Homo sapiens: one gene and its partners. The protein of the gene in region 3 purifies or fractionates together with the protein of the main gene of each other region. This does not show direct contact. Each region holds a gene or a part of one and is shown on either strand. Other genes may lie near its edges.

Region 1 (3,500 bases), on a different chromosome or scaffold from region 3:
AGGCAAAGTCAAAACAAAAGCTGAATGGTATTTTGTCTCACTGCACATATTCATACAGAAATGTGCGTACATGTGGACACTGAGTATATGTGTGCATACTTAGCTATTCAATTGTACTCATAACTGTATTCACATCTATATTTCCTTCAAAAAAGTCCTGGGGCAAAATAAGAGACAACCTGAGTAAACTCACTAGACTTAGGGCAATTGCTATTACGATTTTCCATGTGGTTTCCATAAGCAAGGTGCACACACTTGACACCACACACCACAATAGTCAAATGGAAGGGAATACAATAGGAAATGGTTCTGAATCATTAGTTCTCAGCACTGATTGCACACCAGACCATCTGGGGAATTTTAAAAACACTGCCACCTGACTCCCATCCTGCAAGATTCTCAGATAATTACCTTGGATGCCACCTGGGCATCCTGATATTTAAATGGTCCCCAGGTGATTTTTAATCACTGCCAAGATTGAGAGCCAATGATGTGAATCAATGATACTCCAGCACATGGGCGCAATAATCATTTCAACAACATAACCTTGGGGTCAAGGAGTGACCCATATTTAAATGAACCCACCACGCCTGTGGTGAAGTTGTCACTGAACTAATTTGGAGCATCTACCATGAATAGAAACCAGTCCAGCTGGAATGCAAGAAGTAAGCAACCAGGTCCTGTCTGGTGCGCCTGCCACCCCAAAGGCTTGGGTCAGGAGCTTCTGAGAACCAGAAGCCCAGATTCGAATCTTGAGAAGCAGCCAAAAGTTTTGCTACAGGAACACATCTTACAGCCAATTATTATGCATGTTATTGCCACCAAGTAGGCTTCATGATGAGGGGTGGAGGTGCTAAGGAAGGGCTCCTTTCTAGAACTTCACCTTGACATTTAAACTGATCCTAGAGAACTTTTCTACATTCAACAGTGTTGGGGAAATGAGTTTTATACTCAGAGGTTATGCCATAGTGAAGGATAGTTCTCTTTACTAGAAAGCCAACTCCAAAAAGGAAGCTTACATATCATTTAATTTTAAAAGTCACAGAATTAGAAATTTTAAGATACCCCAAATCTCAATACTCTAAACTTAAAGATATATCATTTACTAACAGTGCCTATGAAGTGCAGCTCACATATGCCAAGTGCACTGCTCCCAGCCTCCTCCCTGCATTGTTTTATACCCCGTGCTCCTCTGTGCCATCTGGTCAGGTGTGTCAATCCTCCTTGGCACTTTCTCATGATTCTTTTTTTCACAACTATTTCTATAGGAGCATCAAGGATGAAGAACAGTTGAATGCAGTTTTTCTCAGTGTCAAATACTATATATTACTCTTCAAATCAAAATTCAAAGTGGAGCCGGGAGTGGTGGCTCCCACCTGTAATTCCAGCACTTTAGGAGGCTGAGTTGGGCAGATCGCTTGAGCTCAGGAGTTCAAGACAAGCCTGGCCAACACGGCAAAACCCCCTCTCTACTAAAAATCCAAAAATTAGCTGGGCATGGTGGTGGGCACCTGTAGTCCCGGCTACTCGGGAGGCTGAGGCACAAGAATCATTTGAACCTGGGAGGCAGAGGTTACCGTGAGCCAAGTTCGTGCCACTGCACTCCAGCCTGGGCAACACAGCGAGACTCTGTCTCAAAAAATATATTTAAAAAAAATTTCAAAGTGGTACCTAATAAAAAAATCTTACAGATCTTTTTCAACAGGCTATTTCTCAAATTAAAAAGATACTAAAGAGAATAATAATTACTGAAGAGAAAATCCAAATGCCATTTAAATGTGTCAACAACCGTAACTCAGAGTTTTACAAGAGCTAAGATAGTAAAGAGGTAGACAACATCACCGCTAGAGAACGAGACAAACCCTAAAACTGAATTTTATAAAAAAGTATAAGCCTAAATACCATTCACATTTAGCTTACAGAACCTTAGACCATGAGCAACTGATGAAACGTCCAATGACAGACTATCAAGGCTTTACAAAGCACTGTATCTGAGAACTGGTAAGTATTCAGTTTGACAATATAAGATGTTCCAATAAGGAATTAATCAGGATAATAAACAAAGTATATGAACAATATGTCTAGCTTTCTAACAACAAAACAAGTTATTTCCAAGTTCTAGAAAGCCATATCTCAAGGGATTAGAACAGAGACCATTAAGGAGGAAGAGAGAACTTGAATTGGCAGGGAATGTGCTATATAATGGCACTTCCGTCTATAATCAACTTCAGAATGCATACTCCACAGGAAATAAGAGATACTATGGCTCTTCAAGCAAGCAATGGTGTGTTAAAATTAAAAAAAAAAAGAAATACTGTGGGGAAAAAAGAATGAAGGAGAATAAAGATATTAGAGTCAAATATAAATTCCGTATTATACCTAGGCTCTGGGATCAACACCACCTCCAGGCTTTCCTAATTCATGTGAGCATGGGTTAGCATTAAAAAGGCACTATTTTACTTTGAGGTGATTACATTGCTTTACTCAAAGAACTTGGTGGAATGGCTAAAGTTTTAAAAACAAACAAAACTAACGATACTAAGTATTAGTGAGGATGCAGGGCAACCAGAACTCACATACACTGTTTGTAAGAATGTAAAACCGTAGAGTTGCTCTGGAAAAGCTTGGCCATTTCTTATAAAGTTAAACATACAGTTACATGAATCAGCAATCCCACTCCTAGGTATTTACCCAGAATAGATGAAAACTATGCTCACACAAAAACCTGTAGGTAAGTGTTTACAGCAGCATTATTCATAATTGCCAAAACCCGGGAACAACTCAAATGTTCTTTGATAAACCATCTGTGATACTTCCATACAATGGCAAACTACTTCATCAAGAAAAAGGATGTACCACATCCTAACATGCACAACAGTGTGCCTGAATCTCAAAAACATGATGCCAGGTGAAAAATTCAGACTCAAAAGGTTACACAATGTGGGGCTGGGTGCAGCGGCTCACGCCTGTAATCCCAGCACTTTGGGATACTGAGGCGGGTGGATCACCTTTGGTCAGGAGTTCATGATCAGCCTGATGGGGTTTAGTAGAAACCCCATCTCTACTAAAAATACAAAATTAGCCGGGCATGGTGGCACATGCCTGTAATCACAGCTATCCGGGAGGCTGAGGCAGGAGAATCGCTTGAACCCAGGAGGCGGAGGAGGTTCCTGTGAGCTGAGATTGTGCCATTGCACTCCAGCCTGGGCAACAAGAGTAAAACTCCGTCTCACAAAAAAAAAGAAAAAAAGGTTACACAATGTATGATTCCACTTTTATGACATTCTGGAAAAGGCAAAACTAGGAAGATGGTAAACAGATCAGTGGTTGCCAGGGGTTAGGTGTAGGAAGAGAGTCTCACTACAAAGGTGCAGCATTAGGGAATTTAGGTTGGAGGCAGAGGACTCTTTGGGATAATGTTAACGGTGGTGCTTACATTACCTATACAGTCAACAAAACTAAAAAAAGAAAATAAAAGAAAATCCGTAATTTTTTTTGCA
Region 2 (3,500 bases), on a different chromosome or scaffold from region 3:
AAACCTTCCAAAAATGTATGAAAATGCAAATTATAATAAGAGAAATTTCCACTTATCAAACTGGTAAGGATAAAAAAAATTAAAATGCTCAATGTTGGTAACAGTATAGGAAACCAGCATTTACTTACTCACCTGGTAAGGTTATAATTTGGGAGAAAGTTTTTAGAATAGAATAAGATGATAAGTACCAAAGACCTGAAAGGTATGCATGCCCTTTGATGTACAAATTCCATTTGTAAGAATTTATACTAAGAAAATAACTAAAGATTTGGAAAAGGACAATAGGAATGTTTATCCAAGCACTATTACTCATTGCAGGAAGTTGGGAATAGTTGACATTTCTAAAGGCGTATATTAATCAAATTGCATACATCCCCAAAAGGAATATATTATAGCTATTTATATTTTAGGGGATGTTTGTATAATATTAAAAATTATAAAAGAATAACAATATCATATTTATAAAAAGAAAGTCTGTTCATAGAGGAAATTTTGAAAGCTGTTAAGAATTGGCTGTTCCAGGTGGCTGGATTATATATATATTTAATATTTTCTTTTGCTTGTCATTACTTGCTAAGTTTTCAATAATGAACACGCATTGCTGTCATCATTTTAAAAAACCAAGCTGTGTTTTTTAGGCCAGGTGCAGTGGCTCACGCCTATAATCCCAGCACTTTAGGAAGCTGAGGTGGGCAGATCACTTGAGGTCAGGAGTTCAAGACCAGCCAGGCCCACATAGTGAAACCCCAGCTCTACTAAAAATACAAAAAATCAGCCAGGCGTGGTTGTGGGGACCTGTAATCCCAGCCACTCAGGAGCCTGAGGCAGGATAATTGCTTGAACCCAGAAGGCAGAGGTTGCAGTGAGCCGAGATCATGCCACTGTATTCCAGCCTGGGCAACAGAGCGAGACTGTCTCAAAAAAACAAAAACCAAAAAACAAACCAAGCTGTCTTTTCTAATTGCAAGAGGAAGCTAGGCTATTACAGCTATTGTTTCGGCTAAATATTGTTGAGTCAACCTTCTCGTTTGTTTCTTTGACCATGTCACTCATCCCTCTTATTCTATAATATACATTAGGCTTTGCTTGGGTCACATGCTGTACAATCTGAGGTAGGAGGAGGAATTCTCCTGGTTTGCTATGGCAATATAGAGGTTTTTTGCTTTTTGTTTTTTTTTTAAGGCCTTAGCTATTATTTAGTCTAGTCCTTTTCATTTTACAATATAAGGAACCTGGGCCAGGCATGATAGTACACTCCTGTAATCCCAGCACTTTCAGAGGTTGAGATGGGAGGATCATTTGTGGCCAGGAATTCTAGACTAGCCTCGGCAACATAGCAAGATCCTATCTCTACAAACAATTTTTTCAAATTAGCTGGGCATGGTGGTGAGCGCCTGTAGTCCCAGCTACTCAGAAGGCTGAGGCAGGGAGGATTGTTTGAAACCAGAGTTTGAGACCGCAGTGAGCCATGATCATGCCCCACTGCACTTCAGCCTGGATGACAGAGTGAGACCTTGTCTCTAAAATACATACATACATAGGTACATAACTTGAAAGAGGTCCAAGGGAGTGAGTGATTTTTTTAAGGTCACAAAGTGAATTGAACAGCAACTATAATCCAAACTCCAGATTCTCAGTCCACTTATTCCCAAGAAGTTGGCTGAACACCCCAATCAATGATCCTAGCTGGAAGCTGGCCTTGGGAAGGGGATATAGCAGCTCTGCCAACAAGAAAACCCAATGGAAACTGTAAGTCAGTTAGGCAAAAGCCTAGTTACTCCATAACACTAAAATGAACTCCCAAGTGTCAGAGGAAACAGGAAAAACAGGAGAACACAGGGGGTCCTCCATGTTGTCTAATATGAACTCTTTTGGAAGATACTGATTTTGAAACAGAGCAGATTCTGTGATTAAGTCAAGGAAGCCCTGGGTTAAGGACTACCATATATGATGATTAACTGTAAGATATGCCCTTATGTAACAAATTAGTTAATATATTTATGGTAGCTTCTAACAAGGTAATAATTTTTTGGCTATTAGTATATTTATTTTCTTCCATGCATAAACAAAGAATCTAATACCACATATCGGCAGCTCTCAAAATGTAGTCCACAAACCTTAAAGGTAGAGGTATGGGGAGGGGTTCCTGAGACACTTTCAAGGAATCTGTGAGGTTAAAAATCTTTCATAACAATACTAAGACATTATTTATCCTTTTTACTTTATGAACATTTGCACTGATGGCGAAAAGGAATGGTGGATAATACTGTTGGTACTTCAGCACAAATTGAGGCAATGACACCAAACTATACTAGTAGCTATATTTTTCATTGCCATGCACTCAGGCTAAAAATAATGTCAATTTCATTTTAGAATATCCTTAATGAAATGGTAAAAAGTATGAATTTTTATTAAATCTCTACCTTTGAGTTATATGTGACCAAGTACACACAAAGCATTTCTGCTGTGTACCTGAGTATAAGGGTTGTCCTGAGGATTTGGTTGCCCAAATCAAAAGCACTTTTGCAATTGGTTGAACTGTGAGCTGAAATAGATTTTTTTCATGGAAAACCATTTTTTTTTTTTTTTTTTTGAGACGGAGTCTCGCTCTGTCGCCCAGGCTGGAGTGCAGTGGCACAATCTCGGCGCACTGCAAACTCCACCTTCCGGGTTCACGCCATTCTCCTGCCTCAGCCTCCCGAGTAGTTGGGACTACAGGCGCCCGCCACCACGCCCGGCTAATTTTTTGTATTTTCAGTAGAGACAGGGTTTCACCGTGTTAGCCAGGATGGTCTCGATCTCCTGACTTCGTGATCCACCTGCCATGGCCTCCCAAAGTGCTGGGATTACAGGCGTGAGCCACCGTGCCCAGCCCATGGAACACCATTTTTACCAGAAAAAAACTACTGACAGACAAACCAGGGTTATTCAGACTTAAGTATGTGGCAGAAATTCTGTCAAAAATGTAACAAAGTGAGATTGTCACTTCAAGTAAAACAACTGACAGTTTGTGTTACCAATGATAAAATTCTAGCTTTCAAGTGAAAACTAGAATTTTGGAAAATCCTATCTGCCACTGTGAGCTTGACAGCTTCCCAATACTTGAAGACTTTTCCGACTAAATAGGAAGACATTAAGGAAAGTGATTGTTTGATACTGTATAATGAAATATGTCAACATTAGGAAGAACTGTATAACACAGTGAACCACTAAAATTTCCGAAGGACTTATGCTTAATGTTTTAAAAAACAGGCATGGATTCAACATCCATTCAAAGTGTAAGGTACACCATTGGATATTAATGTAACAGTGTAAAACAAGTACATTGATATAGTTTCAAATTCCACTTTGTAACTAACCTTTAAAAAGCTACGATTTGTCAAACTTTGATGTGATATCAAAGAACATCCATGATTATCTTTAAAAAGCTATTAAAATATTCTTCTTTCCAACTTCATATGACTGTGAGGTGGGATTTTCTTCATCTTAAACCAAAATGA
Region 3 (3,500 bases):
TTACCAAATTCCACTTGTAATTTATATATGTGTGTGTATATATAATCTACAGTTAAAAATAAGTTTTTTCCTTTGTAATGACAACGTGGTTTTCTATTATCAGTGTAAACTATCGCAGACAGCTAGCTAATTGCTATAAGAATAGTTCAACATCAACTAAACTAAAATCAAAATTTTTTGCCAGATTCTTTAATATTCAACTAAAAATACTAATGCTGTAAATTATCTGTATATAACTTATTATTAACTTAATAGAACACTGATCAAAATTACATGAATTTGATCTTCAATAGAGCTGTCCTGAGGTTAATTTATACTTGAAGTGGCCAAGTATGGTTGAGATAGTTGATTATCATTGGGGGAAATTTGGTTTTAAAGTCAGACGTAAAATTGTATCCTGTTTTAGCCACTTAGTATCTGTATGACCTGGGAAAGTTTATTGAAGTTCAGTATAGGTACATCATTTGTAAAAGAGGATTAATATTAAACATTCCAAAATTTGTGAGAATTAATCATGTTGTAACATGTATAAAATGCCTTACACAGTGCTTGGTATATAGTTGGTACTCCATAAGTGCTACTTCAGTCTTCTCTTTCTCTCTCAACTGTAAATGCGGAAATAATTGTCCCTTAGAATTACTGAATTCCTTGGGATTTTTACCGAATTCCCTCTAGGGACATCCAGGAAGACTGAAATCTTCTCTTTAAGATAGTTTTTACTTCTACCTAGCAGAGTCAATAACATTTACTTTCTTGATAGAATGGTTGTTTATTGGAGCAAGAAACCAAGTTAGACTATTGCTTTTCAAATTAGAAGGTTATCTGTTTTAAATAAAATTTACTAATATTACTTCAGTAATCCTAGAGAACATTTGCATACTCCTGCTTTGTACGTATGACTCAATTTTGAGATAATTAACCATTTGTACCTTCCAATATTCAGGCTAGACAGTAGATATTTGAGAGTGTCTGAGGGGTGCATAGACCATCTAATCTTTAGATTTTCTAAGCTCCACACCAAAATCTGGTAGAATTACTGGAGTACCACATACTTCAACTGCTTATATCAAAAAATGTTTTCACTCATTTACTATAATGCAAAAAAAGGCTCTTAGTTGTTTGAGGTTCATTATTAAAAGTGGCTGCTTGAAAATATCTTCATTTGTAGACTTTCTTTCCCCCTTGTTAATTTATTGACCTTACATAAGTATGCATGTGACAAATCTCTTGTAGACCCAAAGGTAGGAAATAGATTTTACTATGGGGAATAACACTGATAAGAACACTTGATTTTATTCCTTTGCCTGCCTTCCAGAAAGCATTCATAGCATAAAATAATGTTTAAGCCTGTAATTCTTATCCAAGATGTCTGGTAGAACTTTCCTCTTTCCTTATAACTTTAAATCATTTCGTACTTCTTTTCAGCTAATTTTTTTTGGGAGGGGGTTATGTTTCTTCAGTATAAACCACCTCAGTTCTCCTTTTGAAATAGATGTTGCATAAGTTATAATTATATATGTTTATCACTGACACCACTAAAAAGAATTTGACTTGGTTTTTTAACCAGTTTGTCTTAAGCTTCCTGTAGTTGTTTCCCCGCTCCTCCCCGCTCCCAAATATATTTTAAGAGAGTTCCTGTGCCTCTTACATTAACATCTTCACTGTAGTCATGGATGATCCAATGCCTGACATTTTATATGTACCATCTAAAGGACATAATTGTGCAGAGAGAGAGAAGGATTATTGCATTTTCTTTGAACTTTTCCTTATTTGGGATGCCCTATTATTGGATATGTATTCATGAAAGAATCTCATTTGTTGATCTAGGTTTATCATCATTGGATTTTTAGATGAGGATTGGCATCTGGGTCTTACAACTACCCTTCTTTTGTTCCAGGGTTTGGTTAATAAAAACTCTAAGAACTGTGCCAAATGGGATCAAAATATCAGCTTTATTAAAGGTAAAGTTGAAATAGAGATTGCAGTTTGGGCTTGAAGCCAGAATGGGGTTTTTCACTCCTGCCCTTTGAATTGGAAACAGTAGAATGAGAAGAGCTCAAAAATGTTAATCTGCTATTGCTCATTCCAGGGAATTAGAGCAGAGGTCCCTTTCCTCTGAGGGAAGAGGGAAAGAAAAAGGAGGAAATACATACTCAAATGTTCTAATTCCTCCTCTGATGGCAAACGTGTTCAGAGAAAGGGTAAAAGGTGTATCATGCAATTCCTGACTTAACCCCAGCAATAAGATATACAAACATGGATTTTTAAAAATAAAATCTAGGGCTGGGATCCGGTGGCTCACACCTATAATCCCAGCACTTTGGGAGGCTGAGGTGCGCAGATCACCTGAGGTTGGGAGTTCGACACCAGCCTGACCAACATGGAGAAACCCCGTCTCTACTAAAAAAAAATACAAAATTAGCTGGGCGTGGTGGTGCATGCCTGTAATCCCAGCTACTCGGGAGGCTGAGGCAGGAGAATCACTTGAACCTGGGAGGCCGAGGTTGTGGTGAGCTGATATCGTGCCATTGCACTCCAGCCTGGGCAACAAGAGTGAAACTCCGTCTCAAAATGAATAAATAAATAATTTTAAAAATCTAGTTTTACAATAAAATCTAAATATATAAACTTTTAAAATATCTTAACGCAGTAGTGTCTTGGGTTTTTTGTTGTTGTTGAGACAGAGTCTCGCTCTGTTGCCCAGGCTGGAGTACAGTGGCTTGATCTTGGCTTACTGCAACCTCCACCTCCCAGGTTCAAGCGATCCTCCTGCCTCAGCCTCCTGAGTAGCTGTGACTACAGGCACTTGCCGCCATGCCCGGCTAATTTTTGTATCTTTAGTGGAGATGGGGTTTTGCCACATTGGCCAGGCTGGTCTCGAACTCCTGACCTCTGGTGATCCACCTGCCTTGGCCTCCCAAAGTGCTAGGATTACAGGTGTGAGCCACTGCACCCGGCCTAATAGTGTTTTTAAAAAGTAAAAATAAAAGAAGACAGTGGAGAAAATGTTAACCTTCTGATTTGGTTGCATGCTTGGATTCTTTGCTTTGGTAGAAAAAGGAAATAACTAATGGGATCAAAAGTAAATTAACTGGAATGATTCTAGGGTAACTCACAAACTGAAGGAAAAGTTAAAACAACCAAGTCTTTGGAAAAACAGAGAACCTCAGATCTCAGAAGTAGAAACTCATCAATCTTCTCCCTGCAGTGCTGTCATCCAGTGCTTCAGTTCACCATGCTGTCTTCGTTAACTGTATCCCTGGTCAAGATTCAGATCCAGACAGATATTTTGATTGGCTCAGCCTGAGACAAGTGCTTATCTCTAGACCACAGTCACTTTACCTAAGAGGGATATAGGAAATTAAAATTGTTCCAGCCCCTCTGGTGAGGGGAGCAAGGCAGAAGAGAACAAGGTGGGAGGTGGAATAAACTATACCGAGCTGACCAAAGAATAGCAACCATACATTCATTTATCCAGCCATTATTTAATAAGTGCGTCC
Region 4 (3,500 bases), on a different chromosome or scaffold from region 3:
GAGATTACAGGCGTGAGCCACCACGCCCAGCCTTGATTTTTTTAAAAATATGAGTGTAATGTATTTCCCCTGCTAATTAAGTAATTAACTAAAATTAAATAAAGGTCAGGAGACAGAAGAGTACAAGAAAGAAGGAAAAATGGTTAATCTTTTTTTTTTTTTTTTTTTTTTTGTGTGTGTGTGTGTGAGATGGAATCTCGCTCTGTCGCCCAGACTGGAGTGTGGAGTACAGTGGCACAATCTTGGCTCACTGCAATCTCTGCCTCCCGGGTTCAGGCGATTCTCATACCTCACCCTCCCAAGTAGCTAGGATTACAGGTGTGCACCACGACACCTGGCTAATTTTTGTATTTTTAGTAGAGACGGGGTTTCATCATGTTGGCCAGGCTGATCTCGAACTCCCAGTCTCAAGTGATGTGCCCGCCTCGGCCTCCCAAAGTGCTGGGATTACAGGTGTGAGCCATCATGCCCAGCCAAAATGGTTAGTCTTAATTTTGTCATGCAGAGTTATGCTTGGAAGAAGTGTTTTCTGGTCAGTAATTTGTGAGTCTTTAAATTGCAATACTAGAAGCCAGATATGCATCTAATATGTGTATGTATGATCTTTCATAAACATAGGAGTTTAAGACCAAACTGGCCAACATGGTGAAACCCAATCTCTACTAAAAGTACAAAAATTAGCTGGATGCAGTGGTGTGTTAGACATTTTCTACATGAACTGGTCTTGCTAAGATCACCAGTGACCTTAAAATGTTTACTAGTACTATTTAACCTCTCCACGTATTTCATACTGCTTGGCCATTGCTGCCTGACATTCTCCCCTAGGTTCTATCTTCTCTATCCTTGTTTCACCTGTTCTTCCTTTGTGCCTTTCCTTCCTCTTTTCTTCCATATTTTCCTGGTTCCTTTTTCTTTCTAATAGTCTCTTAAATATTGATCTTTTCCAGAATTCTTTCCTTAGCCTCTTCTTATTTCTAGTAATCTATCTGGGTATTTTTTAAATCCACTCTTATGGTTTTAATTACTACCTGAATATAACTTTGAAATTTGTACATCTCACCTAGATCTCTCTGGGTTTTTTTTTTTTTTTTTTTTGAGACGGAGTCTCGCTCTGTCACCCAGGCTGGAGTGCAGTGGCGCGATCTCGGCTCACTGCCAGCTCTGCCTCCCAGGTTCACACCATTCTCCTGCCTCAGCCTCCTGAGTAGTACACCCAGCCTCCTGAGTAGTACGCCCGGCTAATTTTTTGTATTTTTGGTAAAGATGGGGTTTCACCGTGTTAGCCAGGATGGTCGCGATCTCCTGACCTCGTGATGTTTTGTTTTTTGAGACAGAGTCTTGCTCTGTTGCCCAGGCTGGAATACAGTAGCACAATCTTGGCTCACTGCAACCTCTGCCCCCGCCGGGTTCAAGCAATCCTCCTGCCCCAGCCTCCTTGGTAGCTGGGATTATAGGCTCCCGCCACCATGCCCAGCTAATTTTTCTATTTTTAGTAGAGATTCACCATGTTGGCCAGGCTGGTCTCGAACTCCTGACTTCAGGTGATCCACCCGCCTCAGCCTCCCAAAGTGCTGGGATTGCAGGCGTGAGCCACCATCTGAGAATTTACATTGTACCAGAGCAAAATATTTTAAATTAAAAAACAAGAAACAATTTTAGCCAAAAAAAGGAAAACCACCCCAAAATAGATTTTTTTTAAAGAAATAAGGCGTCAAAGACATTCTAGAAACCTTACCCAATCCAAACTTTGGCCCCAGTTCTAACCCTTGCCCTTGCCTTGTATTGCCTTTATGCCACCAACTTTATAAGCCATGCTTGGTTATGATGATTATTAGAGACACAGGTACTTAAAATAGGACAGGGGTTCTAGCCACTATGTCTTCCAATCCCTGTTATTTGTAAAACTTTATGATAATGGAGAAGTTATATACTGTTGGCATTTTATTATTAAATTAGATGTTTGCCTGTTTTTAAGGTGGCTTGTGTTTTTGTTTTTTGGTTTTTTCTTAGGCATCTGTGGGAAAACTAGAATTGCAGAAGTTGGAGGTGTGCCTTACTTATTGCCTCTTGTAAACCAAAAAAAAGTAAGTACTTTTACTCTGCATATTCACATGAAGATTGTAGAAGTTGGGTTGATTACTGTGTTTATTATTAGAAGACCTGTTGATCAGTTGGCAAGGAAGTGCTAATGGATCAGTAATAAAAGGTAAACCAGGGACTTTGTACAAGTTGTGACTTAAATAATATTTTTTCCTCTTCTATAGGTTTATGATCTGAATAAAATTGCAAAAGAAATCAAGCTGCCTGGAGCCTTTATTCTTGGAGCAGGAGCAGGTCCATTTCAGACTCTCGGGTTCAATTCTGAGGTCAGCATATATAAGAAAATTATTTTACTTTATTGGTTTGACATTTGGTTTGTCTTTTTGCTTTTAGTGCCAAAAATCCTACTTTCTGAGTGAATTGTAAATCTCTCTGCAGGTTTGATACTACTTGATGTAGATTTCTGCTATAGCACACACTCCAACTGGACTAACTGTAATGGAGTACTAACTTGTAGTTTTAGATTTTCTTAGGTCATAGCTTCAGCCTTAGATAAATGCAGGGTTCTATGGTATTCTGTTGAAGGTTCTGGATTATAAAATATTTATATTCTTACAGGATTCCGAGCTTATCTATAAATCTTTGCTTTGGGTATGCAGGCAGCTTTGGATTAGAAGATGAATGGAATATTAGTGATCTAGTCAACTCCTTCTTCCACACCAAATAGTAGGAAACTATCACAATAGTATGATGGTTATTTATGAAAGTTAATAGTTATTACTAGTATATATTATTACCATATGAAAATATTACTGTTTCTTTGAATCTCATGAATACAAGACTTCAGTCTGCTCATTCTCTCATAACCTCTTCAGATATGAATAGTAGTCATACAAGTTCTTTGCAGAAACATTAGTACAATTTGCCTAGTGTTCAAGTTAGGAAAAAAAGTTAAAAATTTAAAATAAGATATTTAACGCAAGTTATAGATACACTGTAAGAAATCCAATAAATATCTTTTTTTTTTTTTTTTTTTTTTTTGAGATGGAGTCTCGCTCTGTCGCCATGCTGGAGTGCAGTGGCGCGATCTTGGCTCACTGCAACCTCCACCTCCCAGGTTCAAGCAATTCTCTTGCCTCAGCCTCTTGAGTAGCTGGGACTACAGGTGTGTGCCACCACGCCCAGCTAATTTTTGTATTTTTAGTAGAGACAGGTTTTCACCATGTTGGCCAGGATGGTCTTGATCTCTTCTCTTGACCTCGTGATCCGCCCCCCTTGGCCTCCCAAAGTGCTGGGATTACAGGCATGAGCCACAGCGCCCGGCCTATAAATGTTTTCCAAGTTTTTTATGTCTAAAATTAAATATTATGTATTTTATGTTCTCTTATTAGGACTTGAACTAAAATGTCTTAAAAGGATTAAATGTTTTGTAACATTATTCAAGATATTCTCTTTGCAGA

The links.
Region 1: the proteins of GNPDA2 (region 3) and MAP7 purify together in Homo sapiens (affinity purification with mass spectrometry; one large-scale study listed by BioGRID and IntAct). This does not show direct contact.
Region 2: the proteins of GNPDA2 (region 3) and NLN fractionate together in Homo sapiens (co-fractionation; one large-scale study listed by BioGRID). This does not show direct contact.
Region 4: the proteins of GNPDA2 (region 3) and C11orf54 fractionate together in Homo sapiens (co-fractionation; one large-scale study listed by BioGRID). This does not show direct contact.

The regions. Positions count from the first base shown.
Region 1 is NC_000006.12:136,540,423-136,543,922, forward strand, and holds part of MAP7 (ensconsin), read right to left. Parts: intron 1-3,500. UniProt on the Homo sapiens protein: Microtubule-stabilizing protein that may play an important role during reorganization of microtubules during polarization and differentiation of epithelial cells. Associates with microtubules in a dynamic manner.
Region 2 is NC_000005.10:65,725,205-65,728,704, reverse strand, and holds part of NLN (neurolysin, mitochondrial), read right to left. Parts: intron 1-3,500. UniProt on the Homo sapiens protein: Hydrolyzes oligopeptides such as neurotensin, bradykinin and dynorphin A. Acts as a regulator of cannabinoid signaling pathway by mediating degradation of hemopressin, an antagonist peptide of the cannabinoid receptor CNR1.
Region 3 is NC_000004.12:44,713,057-44,716,556, reverse strand, and holds part of GNPDA2 (glucosamine-6-phosphate deaminase 2), read left to right. Parts: intron 1-1,897; exon of another isoform or gene 1,898-1,961; intron 1,962-3,500. UniProt on the Homo sapiens protein: Catalyzes the reversible conversion of alpha-D-glucosamine 6-phosphate (GlcN-6P) into beta-D-fructose 6-phosphate (Fru-6P) and ammonium ion, a regulatory reaction step in de novo uridine diphosphate-N-acetyl-alpha-D-glucosamine (UDP-GlcNAc) biosynthesis via hexosamine pathway.
Region 4 is NC_000011.10:93,751,672-93,755,171, forward strand, and holds part of C11orf54 (ester hydrolase C11orf54), read left to right. Parts: intron 1-2,010; coding exon 2,011-2,084; exon of another isoform or gene 2,085-2,088; intron 2,089-2,264; coding exon 2,265-2,366; intron 2,367-3,500. UniProt on the Homo sapiens protein: Exhibits ester hydrolase activity on the substrate p-nitrophenyl acetate, in vitro. Regulates DNA damage and repair by regulating HIF1A degradation via chaperone-mediated autophagy (CMA).